Linked DNA regions of Homo sapiens. The protein of the gene in region 1 purifies or fractionates together with the protein of each later gene. This does not show direct contact. Each region holds a gene or a part of one and is shown in the gene's direction. Other genes may lie near its edges. The genes, in order: PPL, G6PD, MAP7D1, USP16, OLFM4, HARS1 and ECI2.

Region 1 (3,500 bases):
CTTCATCCAGGCCCTCCCAGGCAGTGGCACCACACCCCTGCTGAGGACCCGGGTGGAGGACACCAACCGGAAATACGAGCACCTCCTGCAGCTGCTGGACTTGGCCCAGGAGAAGTGGGTGGCAGACAGGCAGCATGGAGGTTGGGGTGGGGTCAGGGGGCCAGGTGGGCATCCCCCGACGCCTGATTGGTGCTCTCAGGGTTGATGTGGCCAACCGCCTGGAGAAGAGCCTGCAGCAGAGCTGGGAGTTGCTGGCCACACACGAGAACCATCTGAATCAGGATGACACAGTGCCTGAGAGCAGCCGTGTCCTGGACAGCAAGGGGCAGGAGCTGGCGGTGAGTCTAGGGCCCAAGTCCTGGGAGTCCTTCTCTGAGCAGGTGAGAGCATCTGGCACATCCACCCGCCCGTCTGGATAGATGAGGACACCAGCATCCAGTCTCCCCAGGTTTGGAATGCCCAAATTGGGAACTGCAAATGGAGGCCCACAGCACAAATCCAAGCTATTCACGGGATCTGTGTGACTTACGGGATTTCGGGTGCCAGCATTTTAAGATCAAATATCTGCAATAGCCAGTGTAGTGGCACATGCCTGTAACACCAGCCATTCAGGAGGCTGGGGCAGGATTGCTTGAGCCTTGGAGTTTAAGTCCAGCCGCCTGGACAACGTTGCAAGACCCTATCTCTTAAAAAAAAAAAAAAAAAAAAAAAAGCATAAAGCACATAACAATCCATGTTCCCAGTATCTCTTGCTGAGCAGAGCTGGCATCCTGGGCTGCAGCTCAGAGGGCAAGTCAGTGGGCAGAGGAGCAGCTGCCTTCTCGGCCTGCTTACCTCGCAGTTGCCACGGGCCCCCTTCCCACACTGCCTGAGCACAGGAAACATTCAAGTCTGTGACCTGAGGCCCCTTATTCACACTCCCATCTCACGACTTGCTTTTGCCACAGCCTCATGACCAGACAGTGGCAGGCTGTTCTCGCGCAGGGCACGAGCTGCCTGCTGCAGGGTTTTTAGAAGTTAGCTTTTCAGGGCTTTGTTCATTGTTAAAAAACAGAAGATGGCAGAAGTGACCCAGGTTTGGGATGTACAGAGCAAGGCTCCGGTCCTTCCTACCTGTGGCCTTGCCCACCCTCCTACAGTCAGTGGCCCAGGGGCTTCAGTGGGTGTCATCGCCTGGCTCTGGGAGCTCTGGCCGTAGCACCGCCGTCTCCTCCTCTGCCCCGCCAGGCCATGGCCTGTGAGTTACAGGCCCAGAAGTCCCTCCTGGGTGAGGTGGAGCAGAACTTGCAGGCGGCCAAGCAGTGCTCGAGCACACTGGCCAGCCGCTTCCAGGAGCACTGTCCGGACCTGGAGCGCCAGGAGGCCGAGGTGCACAAGCTGGGCCAGCGTTTCAACAACCTGCGCCAGCAGGTGGAACGCAGGTGAGGGTGCGGTGGGTGGTGGCCATTTTTGTTTTCTGAGAATGCGATCTAATTCCCTCTAAGCAATGCTTTAGCCGTGTCCCACAGATTTTGCTGTTTTTCTTTTTGGTGAGTTCGTCAGATTCTCTGACGGCCCTGTGGTCTCTCTTTTGAGTCATGCTTACCTGGGTCCTGTAATCCACAATGGGCATCTCTGCAAGTCAATGTATATGGACCCACCTGGTTCTCCACAGTCCAACCTGACGTTCCCTAATGACCACCCACCCTGTGTGGGAGATACTTGGGGTATTTCTGGTTGTTACATTTGGTTGTTTCCCACTTTAAAAAAAAAAATGAGGGCTCGGTGAGGCATCTGTTTGCTGTGGCTGAGGCCTGAACGCTTTGCCTTGACAGGGCGCAGAGCCTACAGAGCGCCAAGGCAGCCTACGAGCACTTCCACCGCGGCCATGACCACGTGCTGCAGTTCCTAGTCAGCATCCCCAGTTACGAGCCCCAGGAGACAGACAGCCTCAGCCAGATGGAGACCAAGCTGAAGAACCAGAAGGTGAGATGGCCGTTTCCGCAGCCCCAGGCACACACTGGCAAGGGAGGGTCAGAGGTCAACAAGCCCCTTTCTGGGGAGCCAAGCCTTTGGGAGGTGGAGCAGGGCAGAGGCCTGCCACAGCTGTGTCCTCCCTGGGCCTCAGCTCAAGCTCCCAACACCCAACCCTCTGAGAACAAGAACCGAGTGTGTCGCTCACCTCTCCCAGCTCAGTGCCCCGCACAGGGCCTGGTGCAGAATGGACACTTGGCGTGGGTTGGCTATGTGAGTGAACAGCTACAGAATGAGGAGCCGCCTTTGTGGGGGAAATCCCATTTTCAAAGTTGGGACTCCTGCCTCCCCCATGCCCAACGCAGTGCCTTGGGGTGAGGGAGGAACACGGGAAGCCAATGGCTGAGATGCAAATCCCGGGTCCACCCCATCAGCCACATCCCCACCTCAGAAGCTTTCCTCACTCATAAGCTGGAGGTCACGATGCTTACCTCCTGGCATCGTTTGAAGATTAAATGAGATAATCTAAGTCAGACAGCAGAACAGTGTCTGGTGGTCCAAATCATCAGTAAACATTTGTTTCCTAGCAGAGATAATGATCTTGGCCCTTCTTCACAGAGCCTTAGAACTGCCTTTTGTGGCTGGGCGCGGTGGCTCACACCTGTAATCCCGGCATTTTGGGAGGCTGAGGCAGGAGGATCACAAGTTCAGGAGTTCAAGACCAGCCTGGCCAACATAATGAAACCAAATCTCTACTAAAAATACAAAAAAAAATTAGCTGGGTATGGTGGCAGGAGCCTGTAGTCCCAGCTACTTGGGAGGCTGAGGCAGGAGAATTGCTTGAACCCAGGAGGCTAAGGCTGCAGTGAGCTGAGATCGCGCCACTGTACTCCAGCCTGGGCGATGCAGTGAGACTGTCTCAAAAAAAAAAAAAAAAAAAAAAAAAAAAAAAAACAACAACAACAAAAAAACTGCCTTTTGCAATGAATAAAAATGTATACAAGGGAGCCATTCATCATACTTTGTGCTAGAGAAGAATAAATTCAGATTCTGAGATTTCCAGCTACTGCATCCATGGTTGCTTTTTTAAATTTTTTTTCTGGTTAGTTTTGATTTTTAAACTCTGTCTTACAGAACCTGCTAGATGAGATAGCAAGTAGGGAGCAGGAAGTACAGAAGATCTGTGCCAATTCCCAGCAGTACCAGCAAGCTGTAAAGGTGAGCCGGGAAACTTCCGCCCAAAGCACAAACAGCAGGGGTCTTATTCCACCGTGCCCTGGTCAGAGAAGCAGCAAGCACCGGCCCTGGCACATGGGGGTGGAGCTGGCCATCCGAGGCACTGCCGGCTGCTGTGCAAACTGGCACAGGCTTTTGGGAAAACAGCATGGTACTAGACATGGAATGCTGTAAAAGGGTTTTATACTCTGAAGCAGTAAACACTTTGGGGGAATTTATCCTTAAGGAAAAAGTACAAAAAAAAAAATGCAGGATAAACAACATTGTTGCAACAGCACTATTTACAATAGCAAAACTAGTACGCTGGAAAG
Region 2 (3,500 bases), on another chromosome or scaffold:
CAGGCGCGCACCACCACATCCAGCTAATTTTTTGTATTTTAGTAGAAACGGGGTCTCACCATGTTGGCCAGGATGGTCTCAATCTCCTGACCTCGTGATCCACCCACCTCAACCTCCCAAAGTGCTAGGATTACAGGCATGAGCCACCGCGCCTGGCCTGTATTTTTAGTAGAGACGGGGTTTCACCATGTTTGCCAGGCTGGTCTCGAACTCCTGACCTCAGGTGATCCACCCTCCTCAGCCTCCCAAAGTGCTGGGGTTACAGGCATGAGCCACCACGCCCAGACTATTAGTTTTTACCATGTTTTATTGAAATATATGTCATGGGCCGGCCACGGTGGCTCACGCCTGTAATGCCAGCACTTTGGGAGGCCACGGCAGGTGGATCACAAGGTCAGGAGTTTGAGGCCAGCCTGGCCAACATGGCGAAACCCCATCTCTAGTAAAAATACAAAAATTAGCCGGGCGTGGTGGCAGGTGCCTGGAGTCCCAGCTACTCAGGAGGCTGAGGCAGGAGAATGGCTTGAACCCAGGAGGTGGAGATTTCAGTGAGCCAAGATCACGCCACTGCACTCCAGCCTGGCCGACAGAGTGAGACTCCGTCTCAAAAAAAAAAAGAAATACATGTCATGAAGAACACAGATGGTGCAGGTCTAGCTTGTTGATGACTTTTCACAAACTCAGCACAGCCACAGAAACTGCTCCTAGATCAAGAAACAGAATATGCTCTGCACCCAGGAAGCCCCCTCACCTGGGGCTCTCACAGTCACTGGCCCTCAAAGGGTCATTTCTGACCCACTCCCCACCCTCCGCTCCATTGTTGGTTTTCTCGCCGTCTTTTGTTGGTGCGCAAATCTTAACTGTACAATTGGCTGTACACCCTCATCACAATAAAGGCCATCGTCATCTCCCCAGAAAGTTCCTGGGTACCCATTCCCAGCCAATCTGCCCTGCTCCAGGCAACCGCTGATCTGATTTCTGTCACAATGGGTTGCATCTCTGATGCTGAGATTTCCCAGTGTTGCTGAGTAGTATCCGTTGTATGAATGCACAGTTTGCCGGGTCACATGTTAATTCAAGTGTTTGACTTGTTTCCAGTTTGGGGCCGCTATGAACCAAGGCTGCTGTGACCATTCGTGTGCAGGTCTTTGTGTGGACTTGCACTTTCATTTCTCTTGGGGTGGAACGGCCAGGTCACAGGATAGGTGTGTGTTTCACTTGATCAGAGGGAGCACCCGCACCACCTCACAGCTCAACTTCAGCCATTTTCATTTTCTTGCCTTACTGCACTTTTCTTGTTCCTGATTGCTTAAAGGGATGATTAATATTTCAGCATTTCCTATAAGTGTGATATTTGTAGTATTTGTAAGGATGATGGTTTGGGGGTTTTTTTGTTCTTTGTTTTTTGGTGGTGGTTTTTTTTTTTGAGACGACGTCTAGCTCTGTTGCTCAGGCTACAGTGGTGTGATCTCGGCTCACTCCAGTCTCTCCCTCCTGGTTCAAGCGATTCTCCTGCCTCAGTCTCCTGAATAGCTGGGATTACAGGCATACACCACCATGTTCAGCTAAGTTTTGTATTTTTAGTAGAAATGGGGTTTCACCATGTTGGTCAGGCTGGTCTCAAACTCCTGACCTCAAGCGATTCCCCGCCTCGGCCTCCCAAAGTGCTGGGATTACAGGCTTGAGCCACCACGCCCAGCCAGAATGGTGTTTTATAGATGCCCTTTATCAAGTTAGTGAAGTTCCCTTGCATTCCCCCTCTGCTAAGAGTTTTAGCGTGAATAGGTGATTTCTGAAACACTTGATCTACATCTGTTGGGTTGAGCAAGATTGCTAGATTTAAAAAATCAAAACATAGCAGTAGGCAGAGAGTTCTTAGAGGTTTTTTTTAATCTCTTAATATGGTGAATTTCAATGATTTTTTTCTGTTAATATCAAACCAACTTTTTATTTACAGATGTATTTATTCTGTAAATAAAAAACCTACCGTTTTTAACATTGCAGGATTTGGTTTGCTGATGTTTTCTTCTTTTTTTTTAAAGAGACAGGGTCAGTGGGTCGTCGTGGCTCACGCCTGTAATCCCAACACTTTGGGAGGCTGAGGCGGGCAGATCACTTGAGCCCAGGAGTTCAAGAGCAGCCTGGACAACATGGGGAAACCCTGTCTCTACAAAAAATACAAAAAATTAGCTGGGTGTGTTGGCATGTACCTGTAGTCCCAGCTACTCCAGAGGCTGAGGTGGGAGGATTGCTTGAGCCCAGAGGCAGAGGTTGCAGTGAACTGAGATCGTGCCACTGCACTCCAGCCTAGGTGACAGAGTGAGACCATGTCTTTAAAAAAAAAAAAAAAAAAAAACCTCCTGATTTCAAGCAATCTTCCTCCCACCTTGGTCTCCCAAAGTGCTGGGGTGTGTGAGTTGTGCCCGGCCTGCTGATATTTCGTGTGGGATTTCTGCATCTGCATGTGTGTGTGAATGAGGCGTATGGGTTTTCCCATGTGCCTTTCTCATCAGGTTTCCGTACCAAGGCTCTGTAGGCCCCATAAGGTGGCTTGGGAAGTGTTCCCCTTTCTTCCTTCTGCAGGAAGAGTTTGCTTCAGGCTGGAATTCTCTTGTGCTTGCATTTTGGTAGAACCCACTGGCAACACTCTCTATGCCAGGGGGTTGTTTCTGTAGGAAGATTTGTGGCCACTGTCCCCTCTCAGGTCCATTGCTCTGTTTTTTGTTTGTTTGAGACGGAGTTTCGCTTTTGTAGCCCAGGCTGGAGTGCAGTGGCTTGATCTTGGCTCACTGCAACCTCCGCCTCCCAGGTTCAAGCGATTCTCCTGCCTCAGCCTCCTGAGTAGCTGGGATTACAGGCATGGGCCACCATGCCCAGCCAATTTTGTATTTTTAGTAGAAACGGTTTCTCCATGTTGGTCAGGCTGGTCTTGAACTCCCGAACTCAGGTAATCCATCCGCCTCGGCCTTCCAAAGTGCTGGGATTATAGGCTTGAGCCACCGCGTCCAGCTGTTTAGTTGTTTTTTTGTTTTTTGTTTTTTGAGACGGAGTTTCACTCTTGTCGCCCAGGCTGGGGTGCAATGGTGCAATCTTGGCTCACTGCAACCTCCATCTCCCGGGTTCAAGTGATTCTCCTACCTCAGCCTTCCGAGTAGCTGGGACTACAGACACCCGCCACCACGCCTGGCTAATTTTTTGTATTTTTGGTAGAGGCGGGGTTTCACCGTGTCAGCCAGGATGGTCTCGATCTCCTGACCTCTTGATCCGCCTGCCTCGGCCTCTCAAAGTGCTGGGATTACAGGAGTAAGCCACTGTGCCCGGCCTATGCCCTTTTAAAAAAGCAACCATGCCAGGGGGTTGTCTGTTTCTATTCGTCTTTTTCAAACACCAATTTCCAGCTTTGTTCATCTTTTCTTTGGGTTAGCTTTTAATTTTATTAATTTTACTTGTCATTATTTCCTATTTTCTTCCTGGTAATTTGGCTTGCAGTTCTATCTTTT
Region 3 (3,500 bases), on another chromosome or scaffold:
CCACTGAGGAAATATTGTTTCCTCAGTACAAAGCCCTGAGGCAGAAATCTCCCCAACACCCTTAAGGGACAGTGGCTGAAAAACTGAGCAGGGGGAGAAGAGGAGACAAGGTCGAAGAGGTCAGGATCCTGGGGAGTCCTTAATAGGCTATCATGATGACTTTGGCTTTTTCTTCCCCTCAAATGAGGAATCATTGCAGGATTTTGTCAGAGGAGTGACGTGATCTGACCTTTTTTTTTTTTTTTTTTGAGACAGAGTCTCCTTCTGTCACCCAGGCTGGAGTGCAGTGGCGCTATCTTGGCTTACTGCAAGCTCCACCTCCCTGGTTCAAGCAATTCTCCTGCCTCAGCCTCCTGTGTACCTGGGACTACAGGCGCCTGCCACCATGCCTGGCTAATTTTTTGTGTTTTTAGTACAGACGGGGTTTCACCGTGTTGGCCAGGATGGTCTCGATCTCCTGACCTCGTGATCTGCCTGCCTTGGCCTCCCAAAGTGCTGGGATTACAGGCGTGAGCCACCGCACCCGGCCAATCTGACTTATTTTTAAACAGAATCACTCTGGCTACTGTGTTGAGAAAAGACCCAGGGGGAACAAAGACTGGAGCAGGGAGTCTTTTATCAGAGCTGATAGTAGCTCTGATCCAAGTGATAGAAGTGGAGACAGTGAGAAATGATTAGATTTGAGATCTGTTTTGAAGATAAAGGCAGAAGGATTTGCTGAGAGATTAGACATGAGGTGTGATGTAGTTGTCATTAACTGAGATGGGGAAAATGGGGAGAAGCAGGCTTTTGGGGGAAGATCAGCAGCTCAGTTTGGGATGTGTTAAATTGGGGGCATCTTTGAGACACACAGGGGTGTCAAGCAGCTGGGAGTTGCATGAGTGAAACTAGACCTCAAGGGAGAGGCCTGGGCTGGAGACACAAATTTGGTTGTCGTCAGCAGTGATGGTATTTAAATCTGTGAGTCTGGATGAGGTCACCAAGGGAGTGCGTGTGGATAGAAAATAAATGAGGTCCTCCACTCAGCCCTAGGGCACTCCAGCGCTGAGAGGTTGGGAAGTTCAGGCAGGATCAGCAAAGATGACTGAGAAATGACAGTCAGCAAGGTAGAAGGAAAACTAGGAGAATGTGCTGTCTTCAAAGCCAGGTGAAGACAGTGTTTCAAGGAGCAGTCAGAAATCAACTGTGGCAGATGCAGCTGCATAGTGGCCAAGGAAGATGAGGGATGGAAAACTGCCTGCTGGATTTAGCAGCATGGAGGTCACGGGTGTCCTTGAGAAGTGCAATGTTGCAGAGCAGTGGGGGTAAGGCCTGGCTGAAGCATTTCCTCCTGGCAGAGATGAGGAGACGTGGATATATTCTTCGGGGCAGGTGCTGCTTACCAAGCCCCTGCCAGGTGCCACCGATGATGTACCCGTCTGTACCAACTCCCCATGTGTGCCAACAACTCCATGAGGGAACTGTGGTTACACAGGCTCAGGGCTTGCCCGAGGTTCGCCGGGAGCCGAGGTCCTCAGTCAGGCCTGTCAGACTCTGAAGCCTGTGACCTTTCTGCTCCACTGCATCTGATGCCTGGGTGCAGGTTCTTCCAAGCCTCACTCCTCTACCTCCTCCCAGCCTCCTTTCACATAGCGAGTCAGGACCTTGCTGGGGACTCACTGACTGTCTTGCCTGGTGGGTGTGATTTGCCTAGGTGTAGACAAACACCCGCCTACCAGTTTTCCTTGCAACACCTGCAGCACGCACAGGTGCTTGGAGAATGGCAATAAACAGACCTCACCCTCAACCTTCAAGCTTAATACTTACACACCCAGGCTTTGGCTTCAGACAGTCCTGAGTTCAAATCCCAACTCTAGGCTGGGTGCGGTGGCTCACGCCTGTAATCCCAGCACTTTGGGAGGCTGAGGAGGGCGGATCACGAGGTCAAGAGATGGAGACCAGCCTGGCCAACATGGTGAAACCCCGTCTCTACTAAAAATACAAAAATTAGCTGGGTGTGGTGGTGCCTGCCTGTTGTCCCAGCTACTCTGGAGGCTGAGGCAGGAGAATTGCTTGAACCTGGGAGGCAGAGGTTGCAGTGAGCCGAGATCGCACCACTGCACTCCAGCCTGGCAACAGAGTGAGACTCCATCTCAGGAAAAAAAAAAAAAAAGCCCAACTCTGCCACATACTAGTTCTATGACTCTGTGTGGATCACTTTGCAGGTTGGGCCTTGGTTGCCACACTTGTATAATGGGGATAAGAATCTCTGCCTCTCAGAATTGCGAGGACACAGGGTGCACCACTGTTAGTGAGTAGTAAGCACTCACTAGAGTGAGTAACTGGTTTTGTTGACTACTGGAATTGGTAAAGGAGTTTGCAGTTGGCTGGGAAATAGATTAGCAGTGACCAGGCAGCCGTCTCCTGCTGGTATGGGAAGAGATGGGTGGCTTGTCATGTAGCCTAGGAGTTGGTGGAGTTGGTGGAGTTGGAGGGGTAATGGGGAAGACAGGGCCTCAGCTGGGGCTCTTGCCTGGATCCTAGCAAGCTGGATGGGAAGGAATGAGGCGGAAAATAGTGTGAGCCTCAGATAATTTATTGCGTAACACCTATTCCCTCATATTGCCTTCAACAAGGCAGGAGGGTATAATGGGTAAGGACAGGCTCTGATGATGGCTACTGGGTCCAAGTCCAGGCTCCCTGACTGACCAGCTGAATGATCTCAAATTACCTCTTTTTTTTGCTTCATCTTTTTTTACTTTACTGTCCTCATCTATATGAGGACTCCTTCATAACTATTGTCAGTGAGGATTAAAACTAATAACATATAAGGCCGGGTGCAGTGGCTCATGCCTGTAATCCCAGCACTTTGGGAGGTCGAGACGGGCAGACCACCTGAAGTCGGGAGTTCGAGACCAGCCTGGCCAACATGGTGAAACGCCGTCTCTACTAAAAATACAAAAATTAGCTGGGCGTGGTGGCAGGTGCCTGTAATCCCAGCTACTTGGGAGGCTGAGGCAGGATAATCACTTGAACTTGGAAGGCAGAGGTTGCAGTGAGCCGAGATCGTGCCAATGCACTCCAGCCTGGGCAACAGAGCAAGGCTCTGTCTTGAAAAAAAAAAAAAAAGGCCGGGCGCGGTGGGCAGTGGCTCACGCCTGTAATCCCAGCACTTCGGGAGGCTGAGGCGGGCGGATCATGAGGTCAGGAAATTGAGACCATCCTGGCTAACACCGTGAAACCCCGTCTCTACTAAAAATACAAAAAATTAGCCAGGCGTGGTGGCGGGCGCCTGTAGTCCCAGTTACTCGGGAAGCTGAGGCAGGAGAATGGGGTGAACCCAGGAGGCGGAGCTTGCGGTGAGCCCAGATTGCGCCACTGCACTCCAGCCGGGGTGACAGAGCGAGACTCCGTCTCAAAAAAAAAAAAAAAGAAAAATGTTTCCTTAGATGAAGCTTCCCACAGATGCCGGCCCTGCTCCCTAAGCAAGTTGGTAGCTGTGTTCCCATTGATCTCCTCAG
Region 4 (3,500 bases), on another chromosome or scaffold:
ACCCAAATAGAGTAGGGAGAGAAGCATCTGTAACTTTTCATTTTCCAAGTATAGAGTTTTCAGTGTTGGTCATGATTTTCTGTTTTGATAGAATAGACACTTAAGAAGTGTCAGAGTTGATTTGCCTTTAAATAATTTTTCTCTTTTTTTTTCACCCTACATTCTAGAACTTGTCACAAACACCAGTGCTTAGAGAACTACTAAAAGAAGTGAAAATGTCTGGAACAATTGTAAAAATTGAACCACCTGATTTGGCATTAACAGTATGTTCTTTAAACTTTTCTAGTCTGTAACTTTCCTCTCTGAATGTGTGTTTTCTAAATTATTTTAAATAACTGACACTCATTTCCACTGTTTTTGTTTGTTTTGTTTTACTTTAGGCTACTAACTTAAACAGTTTCAGGCTAATAGAAGTTATAAGGAGGCATTACATCTGTTTGCTGTGTGTGTGCTCTGTTTTTCTATGCTCGAGTGTTAAGCTTCCTTCTTGGGAATGTGTATATGTTTGAGAAGCCTTAGGCTTACATTATTATTTTTAACATCTTTAAGGTGACTTAAGAGCTGTGTAACCAAATAAATATTACCTTATCCATTTTTATTATTTACATTTTGCTTTGGCTCTTTCAATTCTTAGGTAGTAAGTGTTCCAGATAATCTAAAACTAAAATAGTAGAGCTGAATTCTGCATAAGACAGTCTGTGACCAAACAGTTTCTATCTCTTTTGATGTACATTTTAAACTTTTAAATGGGGCAGTTCTGTCAGGAACATTGGTAGTATATGTTAACTAATTAGATTTTAGTAAAGTCAGTGATTCCAGAATTTGACTGAAGAAAGTAATTTCTTTTCCCATATTCAGGAACCATTAGAAATAAACCTTGAGCCTCCAGGCCCTCTTACTTTAGCCATGAGCCAGTTTCTTAATGAGATGCAAGAGACCAAAAAGGGGGTTGTGACACCGAAAGAACTCTTTTCTCAGGTCTGTAAAAAGTGAGTATCCACTTCGATTGTGCTTTCAGTGCCTCAGTGAGATGCTGAGAAATAATATTAATATTAAATAGTAAAATATAAAAATATTAATAGCATTACATTTAGTCAACCCTCTATATACAAAAGGCATAGTTTTTTTTCATTTGGATTTTAAAATATATTTTATGTGATAGTTAAATCTCCCAAGGGTGTTAATGGACTAAACGGAAATTTGTAGAAACCAGAACTCTCTGAGATTTGGGATATGATCCTAAGATTTTCTAAAAATAGCTTCAGAGCTTAGTAGACTGAAGATTGCTTTTCTGTCTTTTTGTTTTTCTCTAGAGCAGTGCGGTTTAAAGGCTATCAGCAGCAAGACAGCCAGGAGCTGCTTCGCTACTTATTGGATGGGATGAGAGCAGAAGAACACCAAGTTAGCATGTTATGACCATTGTATTTTATGATCTTATCTTCATAAGCTTTCTGTCTCATTTGATATCTTACGAGTTAAAACAATGAAAGCTAGTTATTAAGGCCATCATACTTTAAAATTTTTTCTTACACCAGCTTTTTCAACTAGTATGTTTTCACCATTAGAATGAATCCAGAGAATTAGCAGTAATTCTCTTTCTCATGATGGCTTAAGTTTAGTTGATGTTTACAGCATTAATGTTCTTTAAAGATTCTGTTGTACTAACCTATACGAAGAGAGCTGCCAAATATTGGAAATTGTTTCTCCCAAACCCAGGTGCAGCACACCCTTACTTTTAATTCTGAGTCTGATTTAATACTGTTTTTTGAACCTAGGAAGTATTTTCATTTTGTAAGAGTCAGGGAACATTGGTTGCATTTTAAAATTTTTGTTACTTGCCAGGATATAAAAAAATGTATTTGGGGTATGAATTAATGAGTACTAATAATAGTGATAATAACTAATATTTATTTCGCACTTATTTTTATGCCAATCACTGTTTTCAGTGTTTTGTATTAATTCCCTTACTTCGTTCTCACAAAGTTTCTGTGAGGTGGATACTGTGATTTTTTCCTATTCCATAGATTGAGAATCTAGGCTGTAGAGAAGTTCAGTACCTAGTTTAAGGTCCCCCAGAAATAATGGAGCTGGGCTTTAAGCACTGGAGTCAGACCCTGTGGCTGTCATGTAATCATTGTGCTTGTAGGACAAGCTATTTCAGTTTCTTCTCAAAGGTGGTGGGCATGTTCTGAAAACCTTTGGCTTGAAGAGGTTTAAGATCTTGAAATGATAAGATAATACCTTTATTCAATGGTTAGTGATTGCTTTGTGACATAATTCCTTTTTAGCTCCTTGAATTAAGTTTGAAAATGTGATTTTGGAATTATTTAGTAAATATGGGGAGCTGTATCCTGATCACTTTCTTGACTTGATTACATATTTCTAAGGAAAATAAAATTTAAAATTTAATAGTATATATATATCCATTTTATTACTTTTAGAGAGTGAGTAAAGGAATACTTAAAGCATTTGGTAATTCTACTGAAAAGTTGGATGAAGAACTAAAAAATAAAGTTAAAGGTAATGTCTGACTTTTTGAACTAAAACACTATAGTTGAATTCCTCTGTACCTTAGGACAAGATTGCTGGCACATATATTTCCAAGTCCACAATTATTAATGTATAATTTCTCTTTATCAACGTTGATTAGTAAAAATTATTCAGTGCTCCAGAAGTGAACAGTTTTACCCCATGGTGTATTCTTTTTATGTATTAAAGATAGAACTATGATGAATTACAGTTTTACTTTTCAAAAGCTTAAAATTATAATTAGCAGTAATACATGAATTATATTTGTTACTGTGAGTTGTCAGTAGTTGGTTTATTAATCATGGAGCCAACTTAGTTCTTATTATGTGGCGTGTAAAGATTTAGGGCAGATCTGCCCAGTAGAACTTCCTATGTTGATGGAACTCCTCTATACCTTTGCTGTTCCATATAGAAGCAACTAGGCACGTGTGGCGCCTGAAATGTGACTGGTGAAACTGAGGAACTACATTTTTATTTTTATTTAATTGTAATTAAATTTAAATAGCCGTAAGTGACTAAGGGCACTGTATTATAAAGCACAGATTTGAATCAACTCATAGCAACTCTTTGCCTCCTTGGTGCCCTTTAGAGCCTGGCCAGTAATGGAGAGAATTACCCCTGCTGGCATTTTCTGTCAGAAAAGTGTGGTTCTGCATAAATTATCATTTGAATAATGCTTATAGGTTTCACGTATTTGGAAAATTGGCTGATCAAGTAGTAAAATTATGGCTTTTAGTTATATTAAACTTATCAAGATTATTTCTGGGAGCATAGGAAAATAAAAGGAAGATTTTGTTTGAAATATTTTCCTGAGGTTTTTCTTTTGTTTTTAAAATATCAAAGGAGTTCAGTCTTAGAGTTCACAAAACAAGTTACATGCATTTTCTCTCCCAGTTTGCTACTCTGGTATCTTTTATCAGTCTTGAATGTTAGAATGTTAGAGCTAGAACTAAGGAACTAGGCTGTCATTC
Region 5 (3,500 bases), on another chromosome or scaffold:
ACTCAGGGTCCTATTTGCCCTACAGAAGGGGAATCGCATATTCTTCCAAAGGCCAAGGGGACAAGCTCTTGTCTTTGTCTCCCATCCCCCATGCTTCATTCATGTAGAGTTTGGGCATTCACCGCAGAGAGAGACTCATCACCATTAGCTTCATTGTCTTTGAATGCGAGGAGCAGAAATATCTCTAATGGGAGACACTGATCAAACTTATGGACCATTTTGATGTCAGCTGAGCATGCTGGGCTGATGATAAGCAGGATGGAAGCTGGGGGAGTCCACAGCTTTGGGACAGAGATGTTCAATAGAAACCGATGGAATGGCTGACAGCAGGGCTCATAATTACTTGTCTGTCTTTCAAGTGAACTTCAGGACTAAAAGTTGTTAGCTAGTGGTTCCTAATTGACTGTCTAGAGATTGCTTGATGATATCCACTGTTTTCTGAGTTGGCAGAATTTTTCAGAGAACTCTGAGAATGGCCCAACCCTGTTTGTGCAGCTAATTAAACTCCCCTTGTTAAAATGCAATGCAAGATTTTTTTTTTGCTAGACTGTTATTATAATAAGCTATTTCTTCAAAAGTCCTTGATATGTCGGTCTTTTCTGTAAAAGCCTTGGCATGCTTGAGTTGGAGTCTTTCTATCTTTGGAGAAATGAGTAAAGCTGGTTTCAAGGGAAGCTGGCCTCTCTGATAGGTTCCTGGTGTATCTTACCGAGTCTTTATTCATCTCTGGCAAAGACCCTTCCCCTATTCAAACCCTGCTGTCCACCCCTATGTTCGACATAAATCTGCTTGTTTCTCCTCCCTACTCCTGAACTGTTTCCCACGTAGGGATGTGATTGGAAAAGAAAATTGAGACCAAGGTAATAAATTTTGACTAAACACATAAAAAATATGATTGGATACACACACATATTTTTTTTTTCTGCTCATCTTGAAACTTAAATTAAATTAAAAACAACTTAGATGCAAAAGCCTTGATTGGCCCCGAGGCCAGTGATAAAATAAGTCTTCATTATAGAAGCATCTAGACCCAGCTTGATCAGGCATTATGGAGGTTGGTGGCCATTAAATGCACAGGACCCATTACACCACCTGCAGCTGGCTGACCTGAACTTTGAGAGACATGGCCAGAGTCACTTCTGGCTCTGAAGACCATTGCTGTCTCCTTAGAGGTTTCATAAAAAGTCCCTTCAGGCTGATGTTCCACAGGTGAGCTTTGGGTTGGCTTTCAGATGAGATCATTAAAAGGCACAGCAAATTGGCTGCCAAGGGTTACTCTGTAAGGCAATAGTAGTAATAAAAAAATGTTAATTGTGCTGGGATCCTCTTGGGGAAGTTCAAAGGGGACAAAAGAAAAACAGGATCTTTCAAAAGTGTCATTTAAAAATATGCGGTGGCACTGAAGTGTGAGTCTGAATATCTTAAATGAACATAAAATATTTTAAAATGACTTTTTCTGCAAATGGTAAGCTGGAAAAAAACTTTTATTAAAAAAAATTGCACAAAACCTTCAAGCTCATACGCTATTCACTTTCTAACAAATGGCTGGTTCCCATTTTGAAGGATGTTAATTTGCAATTTCCCAGGCGATGAGAGGATATGAATTTGCATCATATATTTTCACTGTAGCCCACATCTTTGGTGATTCCCTCATTCTGATGAAAAGGAATTGGATTGGGTTGGGGTGAAGGTGAGGAAGAGAAAATGAGCAGTAGAAGGAAAGAGAATGTGACATTTTCAGATCACCTACTCTGTGCCAGGGACTTGGCTCACATTACTTCGTTAATACTGAGGACAACCCTGTGAAGTAGGTTATCTCTATTTTACAGATGAAGGAACTAAGAATTAAGGAGATTTCACATCTAGCAAGTGCTAGAATTGAAATTCAAACTTAGCACTCTCATAGCTTCTTTATTTCCCTTTCCTTGCATAGAGATAGGAATAATCTCCTTTAAGACTCCAGAATGGCCGGGCGCGGTGGCTCACGCCTGTAATCCCAGCACTTTGGGAGGCCGAGGTGGGTGGATCACGAGGTCAGGAGATCGAGACCACCCTGGCTAACACGGTGAAACTCCGTCTCTACTGAAAATACAAAAAATTAGCCAGGCGTGGTGGCGGGCTGTAGTCCCAGCTACTTGGGAGGCTGAGGCAGGAGCATAGAGTAAACCCGGGAGCCGGAGCTTGCAGTGAGCCGAGATCGCGCCACTGCACTCCAGCCTGGGCGACAGAGTGAGACTCCGTCTCAAAAAAAAAAAAAAAAAAAAAAAAAGCCTCGAGAATGGGGAATCTTCCTTTAGGTAAAGTCTGCTGGCGTAGTGGTTTTCGTACAACCAGTGGCGATGTGGCTAAACGCTGGGTGGTCCCCACCTGTGAAAACAAAGCTGTTTTAGCTTGTTTCTATGATTCTATTCATTTATGTATTGGACTCCACTTACTTGCCTGTAAGTACTCTCGACAAGCCAATTTCTGTCACTCCAGTTGCCAAAAGCTCAGATTCCAGCTTGTTATTGATGTTCAACTTGTTATTATTTGCAGTTGTTTTCCAATTTCACCGGCTCCGTGGATGACCGTGGGACCTGCCAGTGCTCTGTTTCCCTGCCAGACACCACCTTTCCCGTGGACAGAGTGGAACGCTTGGAATTCACAGCTCATGTTCTTTCTCAGAAGTTTGAGAAAGAACTTTCCAAAGTAAGCATTTTCTTTTCAAACAATATCTTGATAAAGAGAAACAAAACAAAATGTGTTTTAATTTAGGATTTTATAAGCAATCATTCTTCACTATCAAAGACATCACGTTTTTATTCTATGGTGATTTTAGTATTTATTTTATAGGACACCAATGGAGTTCTTATTAAGGCAGGGAAAATGAGAGCACAGGAAGAAAGTGGGGTTCAAATTGTTCACGCCGTGGATAAACTCACTATAGTATTGTGGTACTTAGGCAGTTGGAAAGAAGCCTTGAGCTCTCCTTGCAAACCCCAACCTGCAATTTTTATTTTGTTTTGACGCTGCTTCTTCCTTTTGGTCTTCTAGGTCTTTCCTCAAGCTTTGCTTTCTTTTCTTTCTTCTCCTCTATCCCCTTTAGTTCTATTCTATCTCCCTTCTCTTTTTCCTTTTCTTCTATTTCTATTCCATTCCTGCATCCTTTAGTTTCTTATTTCTCTTGCCTCAATCCTTGCCCTTATTCATCCCTTCTAATCTCTCTTTTCCTTTCCTGGTTAATTCTTTTTTGGGGGGGACATTTTTGGGTATTTTCTTACTTTTAGATGATCTTTTTTTCCCTCCTTCTTTTCCCTTCCTCCACTTCCACTCCTTCAAATCCTCTCCCTCTCATCCTCCTCCCTCCCTCTCTCTTTCCTTTAACCCTTTTTTATCTTTACAAATTGCTCACTTCCTTCTCTCTCCCCCTCACTCTCTTTTTTTGTGACAATAAGTTGTAGTCTCTTTTATTTTTTTCTATTTTCTCCAAGTGAAATCCAAGGTTGTAGTCTCTTTATTTT
Region 6 (3,500 bases), on another chromosome or scaffold:
ATAAGAATAGCAGATGTTAATGGTTGTTGAAGCTGGGTAATGGATAAATGGTGACCTGTAATACTATTCTCTATATTGTGTCTTTGAAAATTTCCATACTATAGTGTTAAGATTATGCTAGAGAGTTAATATCCATTTTAGTATTAACAATAGAAAACTCAGTATTGTGGGGACAAGACTCTTTCAAGGGATCTTCATGGTCAAAACTATTTCTATAATAATTCTTTTGTTTTGTTTTGTTTTGTTTTGTTTTGTTTTGTTTTGTTTGAGACGGAGTCTTGCTCTGTCGCCCAGGCTGGAGTGCAGTGGCGTGATCTCAGCTCACTGCAACCTCCGCCTCCCGGGTTCAAGCGATTGTCCTGCCTCAGCCTTCCGAGTAGCTGGGACTACAGGGATGTGCCACCGCACCTAGCTAATTTTTTGTATTTTTAGTACAGATGGGGTTTCACCGTGTTGGCTGCGCTGGTCTTGAATTCCTGGCCTCAAGTGATCCTCCCACCTCGGCCTCCTAAAGTGCTGGGATTACAGGCGTGAGCCACTGCGCCTGGCCCTTCTATAATAATTCTAAGACATTATCTGCCTTTTTCGTTGTGTTAACATTTGCACTGAAGGCACAAAAGCGCTGGTGAGTAGAACTGCTGGTGCCTTAGCATACATTAAGACAGTGACACTAAACTGTACTAATAGCCAGTGTGTTCTTCACTGCCATGCACTCACAGTAAGTAAATAAATAAATTAATTAATTAATTAATTTAAAAAATTCAGTTTTACTTAACTATGTCATTGATAAAATGGTAAAACTTTGTTTGTTTTGGGGTTTCTTTGGAGACAGAATCTCACTCTGTTGCCCAGGCTGGAGTTCAGTGTCACGATCTTGGCTCACTGCAGCCTCCACTTCCCGGGTTCAAGCAATTATTGTGCCTCAGCCTCCTGAGTATCTGGGATTACAGGCGGGTACCACCACATGCAGCTAATTTTTTGTATTTTTACAGAAATACAAAAAACATACAAGAAACCTACAACATGTTTCACCATGTTGCCCAGGCTGGTTTGGAACTCTTGAGCTCAGGCAATCTGCCCACCTTGGCCTCCCAAAGTGCTAGGCTGAGCCACCATGCCTGGCCAAAAACTTACTGATTTTATTGAATCTTGACCCTTGAGGACCCTATTTTTAAATATTTGCTATGACAAAATGGGAAGTACACATAAAGCACTTCTGCACGCCAAGGTAGGGAAAATGCTTATGCCATTGTTCAAGTTGCAAGCTGATCTAGCTACTTTTTTCATAGAACATCTTGTTTTATTTGAATTAACAACTGAAAGATAAATTATGGTTTTTCAAACTTAAATATTTGGCAGACATTTTTACAACAATAAACGAAGTGAGCCTCGTCACCTCAAGGAAAACATCTGACAGTACTTGTAGGCAGTGAAAAAATTCAAGTATTCAGGTGAAAGTTAGAATTTTAGAAAACTTAGTCAGGGCATGGTGGCTCAAGCCTATAATCCCAGCACTTTGGGAGACCAAGGCGGGCGGATCACCTGAGGTCGGGAGTTTGAGACCAACCTGACCAACATAGAGAAACCCCATCTCTACTAAAAATTAGCTGGGCGTGGTGGCGCATGCTTGTAATGCCAGCTACTAGGGAAGCTAAGGCACAAGAATCGCTTGAACCTGGGAAGCAGAGGTTGTGGTGAGCCGAGATCGCGTCATTGCACTCCAGCCTAGGCAACGAGTGAAACTACATCTCAAAAAAAAAAAAAAAAGAATTTTAGAAAACTTGCATCTTCCATCATAAGCTTGACAGCTTCCCAATAATTAAAGAGTTTTCTACTGGGTGTGGTGGCTTACGCCTGTAATCCCAGCACTTTGAGAGACCAAGGTGGGCGGATCACCTGAGGTCGGGAGTTTGAGACCAGCCTAGCCAACATGGTGAAACGCTGTCTCTACTAAAAATAAAAATTTAGCCAGGTATGGTAGCTCACGTCTGTAATCCCAGCTCCTTGGGAGGCTGAGGCAGGAGAATCGTTTGAACCTGGGAGGTGGAGGTTGCAGTGAGCCGAGAACACGCCACTGTACTCCAGCCTGGGTGACAGAGTGAGACTCCATCTCAAAAACAAACAAACAAATAAAAACAGGCCAGGCAAGGTGGCTCATGCCTGTAATCCAAGCACTTTGGGAAGCAGAGGCAAGTGGATCATGAGGTCAGGAGATCAAGACCATCCTGGCTAACATGGTGGAACCCCGTCTCTACTAAAAATACAAAAAATTTGCCGGGCGTGGTGGCACGCGCCTGTATGTAGTCCCAGTTACTCAGGAGGCTGAGGCAGGAGAATTATTTGAACCTGGGAGGTGGAGGTTGCAGTGAGCCGAGATCACACCACTGCACTTCAGCCTGGGTGACAGAGCGAGACTCCATCTCAAAAAAAAAAAAAAAAGACTTTCTTGATGAGATCTGAAGTGATGTAAATAAATAAGGCTTCCTGATATTGTATAATGAAATGTATCAACATTTGAAAGACCTGTTATGAAATCATGCACAGGCAAAGGATCCATTCATTCAAAGTACAAAATACAGTAGTGGATTTTTTTTTGTAGGAAAATATACGTAACATAAAATTTACCATTTTAATGATTTTTTTTTTTTTTTGAGACAGAGTCTCACTCTGTCACCAGGCTGGAGTGCAGTGGCATGACCTTGGCTCACTGCAGCCTCCACCTCCTGGGTTCAAGCAATTCTCCTGCCTCAGCGTCCCAGGTAGCTGGGACTACAGGTGTGTGCCACCACGCCCAGCTAATTTTTGTATTTTTTAGTAGAGATGGGGTTTCACCATGTTGGCCAGGATAGTCTCGATCTCTTGACCCCGTGATCCACCTGCCTTGGCCTCCCAAAGTGCTGGGATTACAGGTGTGAGCCACCACGCCCAGCCCATTTTAATGATTTTTAAGTGTACAGTTCAGTAACATGAAGTACATTCATACTCATAACCATCACCATTATCCACCTCCAGAATTTTTTCATCATCCCCAATTGAAACTCTGTACCCATTAAACAATAACTCCCCACTTCACCCTCCCTCCAGCCCCTGGTAACTGCTATCCTACTTTCTACTTTCTGTCTCTATGGATTTGACTATTCTAGGTACTAGATAAGTGAGAGACTAATTGTTCTTTTTTTTTTTTTTTAAGTTCATTGATCTAGCTTTCAAATTCCACATTGCAACCAATCTTTAAGAAACAACCACTTGTTGGATTCTGATGTAGTACCAAAGAAAAATATCCACAGTTAGCTGAAAAGTTTGTTAAAATACTCTTCCTTTTACAACTACATATCTGTGTAAGGTTAGATTTTCGTTATATACTTCAACCAGCACGACATATCACGACAGATTGAATGCAAAAATCACATATGAGAATCCTGCTGTCTTCTATTCAGTCAGACATTAAAGATTTGCAAAGATGTAAATCAGTGCCACTCTTCTCACTAAATTGTTTTGGA
Region 7 (3,500 bases), on another chromosome or scaffold:
CATCTCTTAATCCTGGTCTCACCAGTTGGAAGGAAGGAACCCTGATAATCCATCTCCTAATCCTGGTCTCACCAGTCGCCCTGCTGTGTGGTGTTATCATAACTATAATAATGATAGAATGAGTTCCTTATCACTTCCCTCAGGAGAAATGCTTAAACGCTTATTCATGTACAGTCATCCCTTGGTATCCGATGGGGATTGGTTCCAGGACCTCCGTGTGGACAACAAAATCCGCGGAACCTGAAGTCCCCCATAAAAAGGCATAATATTTGCATATAACCTCTATATACACTCCCATATACTTTAAATCATCTCTAGAGTTATTATAATACTGAATACAATGTAAATGCTATATTAAATTGTTGTTATACTGTATTGTTTAGGGACTAATGATAAGAGAAAAAGCCTGTACATGTTCAGTATAGATACAGAATTCTTTTCCAGGTATTTTTGATCTGTGATTGGTTGTCCATGGATGTGGAACCCGTGGATACGGAGGGCAGGCTGTTTTATGTAAAGTCCATGTGTCTTTTCCAGTATATTTGTATCTATAAGTATCAGCCCTCTTCCTCATTTCTTTCCCACACTGAAATCTCATCTAAGGTTGAAATTGCACCTGTTTTAAATGCATTAAAAGCTATATAGCTGCTTGTCCAAGATTTTCAGAAATGTTGCTGATTTAAAATTTTGAGCCACCTTCCTTGAATACCATTACAGTGTCTTGAAAATTCCAGCCTTTTGGCAGTCACTAACACTTCCCAGACTGCCAGGGGCTTCCTTGAGGTCACAACAGAGACGTTGCTTTGTAGAAAGTTTTCTCTGACCACCTCCCACTCTGCCCACACTAGATAAGCCTCAGCACCTCCTCTGAGTTCCCTGCTACTTTGTACTTTCCAACCCCCTCCTCATTTGAACATGTTAATTCCAAATTGAACATGTTAAGTCCTCTGTTAATTCCAAAAGCTCAAGGACTATTTCTTTCTTGGTCCCTTTTGGAAAAAAAGTGGTTTATAGCCTGCAGCTCCTGCCATAGCACCAGGTACATAATATGCACCAGGTAACTGTGAAAGGAATAAAAATTCCTTCAGTTATGTTGGTCCACCTTTTTGGTTATAAAATACAACCAAAATAAATGTTAGGCACTTTGCTGAGAGCAAGCTTGCAGCCTGACATTTGTTGAGTCCATTGATTGATGATTCCTGTGTTCAGAGTTCTTTTCTTTTCCTTGTCTTCCCATTACACAGATGTATCATGAAATTATGCGTGCACTTAAAGCTGCCAGCAAGGATGACTCAATCATCACTGTTTTAACAGGTAAGACATTTTCTCAGGCATCCTAATTAAATTTCTATTTTGAGGGGCCTCTTAATAGATAGGAAATTGAGTTAAAAAGCTCTAAGACCTGGAGGCCGAGGCAGGTGGCTCCCGAGGTCAGGAGTTTGAGATGAGCCTGATTAACATGGTGAAACCCCATCTCTGCTAAAAATATAAAAATTAGCCGGGCATGGTGGCACACACCTGTAATCCCAGCTACTCAGGAGGCTGAGGCAGGAGAATCACTTGAACCTGGAAGGCAAAGTTTGCAGTGACCCGAGGTCGCGCCACTGCACTCCAGCTTGGGTAACAGAGTGAGACTCTGTCTCAAAAAAAAAAAAAAAAAAAAAAAAAAAAGGCTCTAAGATCTTTTCCAGTACTGTCATACTCTGATTTATAAATATACAAAAAATGTTTAAAAAAACACAGATACCCACTCCTTCGCAATTACCCAACATCAATTAAGACACATATGTCCACCAAAAGACTTTTACAGGAGCAGACATGGTAACCTGATTTATAACGGCCAAAACCAGAAAACAAATGTTCAAAAACACATGGATGAATAAACAAATTGTTGACTATTTGTACAATGGAATACTCAGCTATAAAATGGAATAAATGATATACACAAGAATGTGGATGCATCTTTAAAACACAGTTCAGCAAAATAAAGACAGGAGTGTACATACTGTATGAGTCCATTTGTAGAAAGTTCTACAGTAGACAAAAGTTCTTCTCTGTGGAAATTGAAGTCAGAAAGTGATTGCCTTGGAGCAGGTGGGGTGGGATAGCTAGGAAGGAGCCTACGGGAAACTTTTGGGGTGATGGAGATGTTCTGTATCTTGTTTTGGATGGTGATCTTGTGGGTATTTAAAATTATTAAAACTCATCTAAATGAACATTTAAAAACTGGTTGTTTTATTGTATATAAATTGTACTTTAATTAAACACACACACTCAGAAACATACTTTCAGTGGCTCTTAGAATAAAGAAAAAACTTCCTCATGGGATCTACAAAGCACTGTCAGGTCTATTCTGCCAGTCCTCATCCTGCACCGACTTCCCCCTGGCTTTCCCTGAGTCAGCTACAGTGGCTCTTACTTCATCTACAGTGGGGATAACCTCTCCAAAGAGCCTTTGCACAGGCTGTTCCTTTGTGTAAACTGTTCTTCCCAGCCCTCTTTTTCTAGCCCACCTGGCCTCTCCTTCAGATCTCAATTCAGTTGTCGCTTCCTTAGGAAAGTTCTTTCCTGAACTCCCTGATTAGACCAACCCTCCTGGTACATACCCTCATTTCATGACGCACCACTCCTCTATTTCAACAGTAGCATTAGCTACATTTATCGGTGTGTTTTTATAGATCAGTGTCCAGCGTACTCACTAGTTTGTAAGTTAGGGCAGGAACCATTGCTCGTTCTCCAATGTATTTCCCTTGCCTAACCATAGAGTTTGGCATGCAGTAGATACTCAAGAATTATAGGATGATTGAATGAGGGATCTGTTGATTTTCTTACTTATAGGAAATGGTGACTATTACAGTAGTGGGAATGATCTGACTAACTTCACTGATATTCCCCCTGGTGGAGTAGAGGAGAAAGCTAAAAATAATGCCGTTTTACTGAGGTAAGAGTTACTGACCTTTGTCTGATCCCAGAGGGCCCGTTCTTAGTCATCAAAGTGGTATTTAGTTGAGCAAAAGTGCAATATCTGCTTCTCTGTGTCAGTGCAGTTAATTGTGACTTTGGACAAGCATATTTCTCTAAACTGCCTCCATCCATAGGTGGGCATTCATTCTTTCTCTTTGACCTCTGTTACCTGTTCATCCTGCTGGTCTCATGAGATTTGACTGGAAAACATAAAAGTGAGCTATAGTTGTAAACAAAATTATCTTGCACTGAGGCAGAGGAATTTAGCAAATTCTCATCCAGCCAGAGGAATGGGAGATTTCCATGAACGCTGAAGGTAGGAGACTCGGAGGAGTCTTGTAAACACAGGAGGAGGTCATGAAGGCTTTTCTCTTTATTCCTGCCAAATCTGTAATTCCCACTTGTTGTGATATTGCAGCATGTGCTCAGTCACCCAACCTAATCTCTAAGACTGCGGCTGGTTTACAGCCCTGAACTCACTGTCCAGAATACAAGATTCAAACCAGGGTTGACCCATAGGTCTCACTGGTTGGTCT

Evidence for each region.
Region 2: the proteins of PPL (region 1) and G6PD fractionate together in Homo sapiens (co-fractionation; one large-scale study listed by BioGRID). This does not show direct contact.
Region 3: the proteins of PPL (region 1) and MAP7D1 purify together in Homo sapiens (affinity purification with mass spectrometry; one large-scale study listed by BioGRID and IntAct). This does not show direct contact.
Region 4: the proteins of PPL (region 1) and USP16 purify together in Homo sapiens (affinity purification with mass spectrometry; one large-scale study listed by BioGRID and IntAct). This does not show direct contact.
Region 5: the proteins of PPL (region 1) and OLFM4 purify together in Homo sapiens (co-immunoprecipitation; one large-scale study listed by IntAct). This does not show direct contact.
Region 6: the proteins of PPL (region 1) and HARS1 fractionate together in Homo sapiens (co-fractionation; one large-scale study listed by BioGRID). This does not show direct contact.
Region 7: the proteins of PPL (region 1) and ECI2 purify together in Homo sapiens (affinity purification with mass spectrometry; one large-scale study listed by BioGRID and IntAct). This does not show direct contact.

What each region holds. Positions count from the first base shown.
Region 1 is NC_000016.10:4,888,649-4,892,148, reverse strand, and holds part of PPL (periplakin), read left to right. Parts: coding exon 1-114; intron 115-199; coding exon 200-338; intron 339-1,227; coding exon 1,228-1,421; intron 1,422-1,814; coding exon 1,815-1,965; intron 1,966-3,087; coding exon 3,088-3,171; intron 3,172-3,500. UniProt on the Homo sapiens protein: Component of the cornified envelope of keratinocytes. May link the cornified envelope to desmosomes and intermediate filaments. May act as a localization signal in PKB/AKT-mediated signaling.
Region 2 is NC_000023.11:154,536,847-154,540,346, reverse strand, and holds part of G6PD (glucose-6-phosphate 1-dehydrogenase), read left to right. Parts: intron 1-3,500. UniProt on the Homo sapiens protein: Catalyzes the rate-limiting step of the oxidative pentose-phosphate pathway, which represents a route for the dissimilation of carbohydrates besides glycolysis.
Region 3 is NC_000001.11:36,166,160-36,169,659, forward strand, and holds part of MAP7D1 (MAP7 domain-containing protein 1), read left to right. Parts: intron 1-3,500. UniProt on the Homo sapiens protein: Microtubule-stabilizing protein involved in the control of cell motility and neurite outgrowth. Facilitate microtubule stabilization through the maintenance of acetylated stable microtubules.
Region 4 is NC_000021.9:29,038,168-29,041,667, forward strand, and holds part of USP16 (ubiquitin carboxyl-terminal hydrolase 16), read left to right. Parts: intron 1-167; coding exon 168-263; intron 264-858; coding exon 859-989; intron 990-1,313; coding exon 1,314-1,401; intron 1,402-2,441; coding exon 2,442-2,520; intron 2,521-3,500. UniProt on the Homo sapiens protein: Specifically deubiquitinates 'Lys-120' of histone H2A (H2AK119Ub), a specific tag for epigenetic transcriptional repression, thereby acting as a coactivator.
Region 5 is NC_000013.11:53,031,813-53,035,312, forward strand, and holds part of OLFM4 (olfactomedin-4 precursor), read left to right. Parts: intron 1-2,535; coding exon 2,536-2,688; intron 2,689-3,500. UniProt on the Homo sapiens protein: May promote proliferation of pancreatic cancer cells by favoring the transition from the S to G2/M phase. In myeloid leukemic cell lines, inhibits cell growth and induces cell differentiation and apoptosis.
Region 6 is NC_000005.10:140,684,871-140,688,370, reverse strand, and holds part of HARS1 (histidine--tRNA ligase, cytoplasmic), read left to right. Parts: intron 1-3,500. UniProt on the Homo sapiens protein: Catalyzes the ATP-dependent ligation of histidine to the 3'-end of its cognate tRNA, via the formation of an aminoacyl-adenylate intermediate (His-AMP). Plays a role in axon guidance.
Region 7 is NC_000006.12:4,125,576-4,129,075, reverse strand, and holds part of ECI2 (enoyl-CoA delta isomerase 2), read left to right. Parts: intron 1-1,244; coding exon 1,245-1,314; intron 1,315-2,838; coding exon 2,839-2,941; intron 2,942-2,956; exon of another isoform or gene 2,957-3,500. UniProt on the Homo sapiens protein: Able to isomerize both 3-cis and 3-trans double bonds into the 2-trans form in a range of enoyl-CoA species. Has a preference for 3-trans substrates.